Homo sapiens: one gene and its partner. The protein of the gene in region 2 interacts with the protein of the main gene of each other region in a pairwise test. Each region holds a gene or a part of one and is shown on either strand. Other genes may lie near its edges.

Region 1 (4,255 bases), on a different chromosome or scaffold from region 2:
CAAGGTCATGGAGGTGGAACCTCCCGAGTGGGATCAGTATCCTCATACAGAGGCCCCAAGAGCGGCCTGGCCCCTTGACTTGGTGAGGACTCAGGGACCGCGCCGTCCCAGAACCAGAAGGCTCTCCCCAGGCAGTGTCTGCTGGTACCTGGATCTTGGACTTCCAGTCCCCAGAACTGTGGGAAAGAAGCTCCTGTGTTTTATAAGCTACACGGTCTATGGTGTTTTGCTAAAGCAGCCTGAATAGACTAAGAAATCACTCAACAAACACTAATTAAATTAAATGCTAGGCCATCAGAATACGAAGGGGAAGAAGACAGAAACACTCGCCTCCTGATCCAGCATCCAGAACGCTCTGGGGCCCAGCAAGAGGCTGTGCTCGCGTCTTTCTCGTATCTGATCTTCGCCTCCATCCACCTGCTCGCTGGTCCTTGGCTGTGCCTCTGATACCCCAGTGTGAGAACGTGGAGTTTCTTAAGGCAATTCTCTTATCATATTTTCTCTACTTGTCACAACAAACTTACAGGAAAGTTGTTATTCCATGCGTTTTAGAGCTGGGGAGCATAGCCCCCGTGGGCTGAGCAGCTGGCCGAAGTCCTCAGCCCCTGTGGTGAGGTGCAGCTGGAGTGTGATTCTCCGGGTCCTCAGATGGGGGCATCCCCTTGAGGCCCCGCCTCTTGGCCAGGCTGCAGCCCAGGACCGTGCCAGGTGTGTGTTATCTATATTTGGACACACGCTGTGCGAAACGACGGGCACCCTGCAATTATCCGTGTGGTGTAGACGCAGTGTACGTCTGTGGTAATGGCTATAAATAAGCCCCGACTTGCCGACTAGGCACCGCTCCTCTTTTGGGTAGGCAGTTCTTGCTAAAATAGCCCTAAGATACAATCGAGTGAAGACCTGAGTCGTTCTTGAAATAAAAAAAAAAAAACGAACAAACACACGAACATGCACACACACGCTCACAAACCCAGGGGCTTGTGCACCTCCCTCCCTCCACAGCCGACCTCAACTCGGGTGTCCAGGCCTGCGAATGGCACAAATGCTCACTGAAATCCATGTCATTATTAAAGACTCATTCAGGAGTTGCAATTTGTGAGCCAGGGAACCTGTAGCTCGAAAGGATTGAAGATATGTCTGAGAATTCACACGTAAGGATTAGAACTCATGGAGGAGAGTTGCGGGGAGGGAGCGTGGGAAGTCAGTGCCCTGCCCTCTCTTTCTGGGTCGGGGGCTGAAGTGTCACACCCGGTTTCCTGGGAAAAGTGCAGTTTGGGACTCAGAAAGGACACGTTCCAGTTTTGAATCGTGATTTCCCCCGCCCTCAGTTTGAACAAGAAGCTTTTCCTCCTGAGGTCAGGCTGGTGATTTACGATGTGGGTATTGATGTGGGGAGAGGCAGGCCCAGGCGTCTATATATAGTAGCTCCTCAGACCTTAAACGGGAGGGAGGCACAGGCGCTTGCTTTGCAGGAGTCAGCTCTGCCTTCCTCGGCTGGAGTGTGGGTGGCTTGGTGAGCCGGTGGTCAGGAATTCTCTCTCCTCCTTGCAATTTTCCTTTCTGTCTGGGTAAGTGTCTTTCTCTTCTTGCCTTTTCTAATTTGTGGCTTTAAGGGGAGGACCGGTAACTTCTGCACTCACATTTTCTAAGTACCTCTACTTCAGGGTCAAGAAGAGAGAGCCAGTGCACCCCGTCGCAGGCACCCTTTACTGTGGAAAACAGAGCAATTAGTTCTGGGATCTGTATTTCTTTGACGAGGTTTTATGCTCAACTAACATTTTATTTCCCACAGCCGTGGTCTTTGCTAAGTGCCGTTTAGCACCCTGCGGCGTGTGCTTTGGGTTTTAGCCCTGGTCTCATCGTGGCCCCAGGGGGCCCCCCAGTCAGTGGACTGATGTCTGCAAGTTTCATGAGATTCTCAGAAACGAAAGCCTCCCCCGAGGAGAGGGCTGACTTATAAAGGTGTGAAATAATAAAACTGGATATTTTCTTAAGGGAAAAAAGAGTCGAGGGTCATTCAGCTTAGACCTAGCCTATATTATCCACGGTATGGGAAAGAGAACAATCCTTGTCAGGACTTGCAAGTTTTTGCCCAAAAATGACAGCGTTCTTACGGCTGTTTTCTTCTTTGTGCTGTTGGGTGTGTTGTGACCCTTCAGACTTCTTCAGCTCCACTCCGCTGATAGAGGCTGTGCCTTCTCAGGGCGTGCTCTTGAAATGCAACCTGCTGGAGAAAGACAGTGGGGCTGGGTGGTTGCACGTGGAAGGCACCGGAGGCAAACGGAAGGAAGGGGTTTGCCATCACTGGGAACACCTGGCCTTTTCTAATTCTCCATTTCACATTCCTTTCTTACTAAGTAGAAGTAAAACAGGACTCAAAGAAAGCGTGGAACAAAGATAATTTAAGGCGTTATTTAATAAACCAAGTCCCAAGCTAAAACTTGTCTTGGGAGCCAAGGGCTTAGCCACTTGTGGCACAGGCCAACGCTGCGTGTCTGGGAGTCCCTTTCCCCTCTAGAAAGCTTTAATTTGGTGTATTTATTGACTTTGACATTTTTAACTGTACAAACAATTTCCTTCATTAAGTGGAAGTCAATGTTTTGTACTTCAAACATTTTTGCAAATTAAAACCCATCCTGGTGACATGAGGAATGGGCTCCACACGTTGTTTGCAGGAAGGAATTAGGATGGGGATATCAGACACGTGGTCCCCTGCACTGGAGGAGAGGCTCGCGTTTCATCCTGGTGTCATGATTCCTAAACGTGTCAGGAGCATTCCGGGAGTGGCCGGGGAGCTGGGCTGTGGTGGAAAGTGGGCTGGACGCTGTCAGGAGAGTCAGCTGGCGCCTGGGTTCGGCCGTGGCCCTACCGGTGACCCGGGCAAGTCATATTTCCCTGGGGACGGTCTGTGCTAACAGTACAGCGTGGCGCCAGGATTATCTACACACAGGCTGTCCAAGCTGGGGGACTGTTAGCTGCCACCTCACTCAGCCCCCTGTTTTACAGCAGAGCAGGTGGAGGCCCCTGAGCTGAAGGTCAGCAGGTCCCCACTGGAGTCTCAGCCTCCCAATGCGCCTGAGCCCCAGGGACTCACATCAAAAACTACCCTGCGAGGAAAAGCTGCTTTCTTTCTCTCTCTCTTTCTTTTTTCTTTTTTTTTTTTTTGGTTGGTGTGTGTAGGGGGTATTTAACACATGTCTGAGATAGTTCCTTAAAAAGGAAAACAGCTTTCTATGTAGACAGTAGAGGGACATTGGGGAGCTGATCGGCCCAGGTCCTGTCATTTTCTTTATAGTGTCATAAATAGTACAGGTTGATCATTCCAAATCTGAAGATCAGAAATCCAGAATGCTCTAAATTCTGAAACTTTGTGAGCGCTGGTATGACTCTCAAAGGAAATGCTTACATGAGCATCTCAAGTATCCAATTTCTGGATTTGAGTTGCTCAACCAGTAAGTATAAATGCAAGTATTCCACAGTCTGAAAAACAAATCGGGAATTGGAAACTCTTCTGGTCCAAGCATTTTGGATAAGGGATGCTCCACCTGTAGGGTGCATTTGGCAAGTCCTCTCCAGGGTTCCCTCCACTCAGAAGGGCCCTGTGCTGCCAGGGCTGCAGGCACCCAGCACGTGCTGAGTCAGTGGGGATTTGCTTGCAAAGACGTCATCACACCCGGCCAGGAGGTGGTGGCCCAGGCTGGGTGAGGGACACTGGGGAAGTTCTAACATAGGAAGTCCCCCAAGGAGTGAAGAGATTGCGGAGGGGACACACATTCAGGGTGGGTGAGGCTGGACGTGCAGTCCTGCTGGTTTTCTGGGTTGGGCATGTGATTGATAAAAGTGGAGTTGAGGGCACATTGGCACTGGGAGTCAAATGCGCAGAAGACTTGAGCTTGCTACTCTCCCGAGCCAGGAGCTCTAAGGTGTTTTCATTGTTGAAATCCAAGGGTTCTGATTTAGGCTTGGCTGGCACGTTGCAAGTGACCCCATACTTGTGGAATCAACTGAGGCTGATGGATTCTGCAAAGCCTCTGACACCTCCTGATTTTGGTGGTCCTGAGCATGAAGTGAGCAGGGAATACATGTGGGGATAAACGTGGCAAAGTGCCCTGTTACCCCCATCCAAAGACTTCCCGGGGAGACTTCCACAGTAAGGTACCATTGGAGTGAGGATTGCAGGAAGTGTGCACACGTGATCCCAGCTCTGCCTTGCTAAGCACTACAAAGTGTAGCCCCTCACACATGAAGTGTTTGA
Region 2 (3,521 bases):
TCCTGTTCACACATAACCTTCCCCAGCCCCTCATCTGTCTGCCTCCCCTCAAGATGGCTTGCCATAAATGGGCCAGGAGAACCCCATCTTCCCACAAGCCCAGAGGACAAAGGGCTTGGTAATGGGAATTACAATGGGAAGAAATGAGTGGGAAGAAGGGAGCACCCTGGGCCAAGGGGGCTCGGCACCAGGAGGAGCTGAGGAGGACGGCAGGTGGGCTGAGGGTGTGTTTCTCCCACCTGTGGTGGGCAGGGGGTATGCTGGCTTCTGGCGGTGGCTGGAGAGGGTGGTGGCTCTATTTAAAAGGGGATGCAGGCTACAGCTGTGAATCCTTGTGTACTCTCAGAGACTCGCCTGGGACTGGCACTTAGGCAGCCATTGCCTCACCTGGCCCAGTGGTTCACACTTCTGCGGGCTCAGAAAGGGCACTGGCCAGCACCCACACCCCGAACCGCTGCCCTTTGCCCAGCCCTGGGCAGTATCCATGGTGGTGGGTGGGGCAGGGTTGACGGAAGCTGGGGTGCAGGTCCACAGTAGATGGGCTCAGGGTGCTCTAGGTGAACTTTAGGGGTCTCCCTAAATCTCCTTTAAATCCTGGCTGGACCAGGGAGAAGGCTGGGAGGAGAGGTGTCGCCTCTGCTGCATTTGGCTGGTTTGGGGGAAGTGAAAGGGGTTTTCAGTGCTGCTCCACGAAGGCCTCCTAGGCCAGGCCTTTGAATTTGCCCCCACTCCCCTGCATTTCCACCTCCCCTAGTCCAGACCCCATCCCCGGGTCCTCAGGGCAGTGAAGAAGAGTCTGGAGTCAGGATCTCGGCTTCAAGGAAAATTGCTTTATTCTGCTTCCTCCCAAGGAGCTGTTACACAGGCTCCAGCATGGGGCTTTGCTGGCACCTCCAGGGCTGAGCAGATCAAGATGTGGCAAAGCTACTCCTCATTCAAGCCCTTTTGAAAGGAAACAAAGTCCAATCAGTCCTTGGAGAGATGGTATTGGGCAGGGACAGGGCATGGGAACAAAGGTGAGAGGGGTCTGATGGTGGGGGGCCTGCTTTGTGGGCAGGTGGAAGCCCCTGTGGCAGCAGCACATGTGTTTCCAGGGATCGATGTTCGGGGGGCAAGTTCTGGAGGGTAGGGTTCTGGGGTTGGTCAGAGGGAAGTTGCCTGGGCGAGAACAAAGCCAGGCCCGGGTTCTCTGGGATGTCCATTTTAGGTTTGAGTTACAAGATTGCAGGACAAAATTAGGTGGAAGGGAACTGGAAACTAGCAGTTGGGGGGAAACTGGGATATACTGGTTGTATATAAATTAGGGTCTTCTAGGGTGGCACCCCTCCCTAAGGCTGAAATTCCCAGAACCACTGAAACTTAGAGCTGAGCTGGGAGTGGTGGCTCACGCCTGTAATCCCGTACTTTGGGAGGCTGAGGCGAGTGGATCACAAGGTCAGGAGTTCAAGACCAGCCTGGCCAACATGGTGAAACCGCATCTCTACTAAAATATAAAAATTAGCTAGACATGGTAGCACATGCCTATAATCCCAGCTACTTGGGAGGCTGAGGCAGGAGAACCCAGGAGGCAGAGGTTGCAGTGAGCTGAGATTGTGCCACTGCACTCCAGCCTGGGCGGCAGAGTGAGACACCGTCTCAAAAAAAAAAAAAAAAAAAGTTAGAGCTGGAAGAATCCTTGAAATCACAGAGAACTGCATTACCTTGGCCTCTGGGGCCATGTGGCTCAAGTGTGTGGAATAAATGAAAAGGAAGCATCCCGGGTTTGAGGGTGCTCTGTCTGGGTATGCCTGCTGTGGGGGTGACTAGCAAAGCCCAAAAGAGGGACCCACCTTCGTGCCAATGTCACGGCTCTTGGCCCGCAGCTTGTTGACCTGGGACTCGGCGATGTCCGCCCGCTCCTCTGCCTCATCCAGCTCGTGCTGCACCTTGCGGAACTTGGACAGGTTGGTGTTGGCTTGCTCCTCCTGCGGGAGGTGGGAGCATGAGGTGAGAGGGGGCCTGGGTTCTCAGACTCCTGGCTTGGGGGACGAGCTCTCCTATGCCTCCCCTGGGCCTAGTCCCCAGCAGGGTCACTCACCGCCTCCTCGGCCTGGCGCTTGTAGGCCTTGACCTTTAGCTGCAGCTTGTCTACCAGGTCCTGCAGCCGCAGCAGGTTTTTCCTGTCCTCCTCCGTCTGGGGGCCAGAGGGTAGGCAGGGGGTGAAGATGGCACAGTCATAGAAGGTAGCATCCCCTCCGCCCTGCCCTGCTTCATCTGATATCCTGACCCAATTCTACTTTCTGATCCTCACTAAACACTTGAATTCTCCTTATAATTTCTTACCAAATATGTGTAAATATTTTAAATGATCTGTACCAGGAAAGAGTCCAAAGAACTAGTGGGACTCCTGAAATTATGCACAAAATTGTGTGTGTGCAGTGCTCCAGGGAGCAGGTTTTTCAGGGTCCGGGGACCCCATGCGGGATGAAGTCCCCTGCTCTGGACCTCGGCACATGCTGGGAGTGACTTTGGGGCTATGAGTGTGATGGAATTTCCTGGGCTGCAATGCAGGCCAGGAAAACACTGACTTAATCTAAGTTAAGGACAAAGTGTGCTTAGAGAGATAGTGACATCCTGGATTGGAAAAGAAACAAATTCTAATTCAGAGTCTGATTCTAGAAAACACCTCAGAAAGCTAGAGTCCACACTGCCCTGGGCAATGAAAAAGTTTTTATGCTTGTTTGAATGGGATGGGTGTGTTTTTGGTGTCTTTTGGGGGTGACCCTGGCTACATATTTGCTTTCTGGTGAGCTGTACTGGGTGAGCTTTGTCTGGAATTCTGTGTGTGTCCCCTGGCGATGGGCTAAGAGTGGGTGTTGAGATGGAGCTCCCAGGCCAGGAGGCTCAGAGACTGACCTCTGAGCTAGGGGACATTCAGAGTGGGGCAGGGCTAGGCAAAGTGAAACGGGGGCTGCATTCCCATCCTCGCCCTGGAAGAGGCTAAGAGCAAACTCTTCATTCTCCTCAGCTGGTTGTCACTGTGGCTATGGTGCCAGGGCTCTGCCTGGAGTCACCGCCCGTCGCACCTGGTAGGTGAGCTCCTTGATGCGCCGCTCGCTCTTCCTCATGCCCTTCACCGACTCTGCGTTGCGCTTCTGCTCGGCCTCCAGCTCATTCTCCAGCTCCCGCACCCGCGCTTCCAGCTTCTGCAGCTGCTTCTTGCCGCCCTTGAGGGCGATCTGCTCGGCTTCGTCCAGCCGGTGCTGCAGGTCCTTAATGGTCTGTTCCATGTTCTTCTTCATGCGCTCCAGGTGGGCGCTGGTGTCCTGCTCCTTCTTCAGCTCCTCTGCCATCATGGCGGCCTGTGTGCAGGAGAGAGGTGGCACATGGTCTGGTCAAGTCCTCACACACTTGCTGCCCAGCCCACGGAGAGACACTGGTCTGGATCGGGTCGGTGGAGTGGGGGACTTACATCCGTGATGGCCTTCTTGGCCTTCTCCTCAGCATTCCTGCACTCCTGCACTGCCTCCTCCACTTCAGTC

What was found.
Region 1: the proteins of MYH7 (region 2) and MYOM2 interact in a two-hybrid assay, tested with the Homo sapiens proteins (one large-scale study listed by BioGRID and IntAct).

Annotation. Positions count from the first base shown.
Region 1 is NC_000008.11:2,043,601-2,047,855, forward strand, and holds the start of MYOM2 (myomesin-2), read left to right. Parts: upstream 1-1,445; 5' UTR 1,446-1,568; intron 1,569-4,255. UniProt on the Homo sapiens protein: Major component of the vertebrate myofibrillar M band. Binds myosin, titin, and light meromyosin. This binding is dose dependent.
Region 2 is NC_000014.9:23,411,930-23,415,450, forward strand, and holds the end of MYH7 (myosin-7), read right to left. Parts: coding exon 3,452-3,521; intron 3,342-3,451; coding exon 3,066-3,341; intron 2,174-3,065; coding exon 2,078-2,173; intron 1,965-2,077; coding exon 1,830-1,964; intron 943-1,829; coding exon 925-942; 3' UTR 811-924; downstream 1-810. UniProt on the Homo sapiens protein: Myosins are actin-based motor molecules with ATPase activity essential for muscle contraction. Forms regular bipolar thick filaments that, together with actin thin filaments, constitute the fundamental contractile unit of skeletal and cardiac muscle.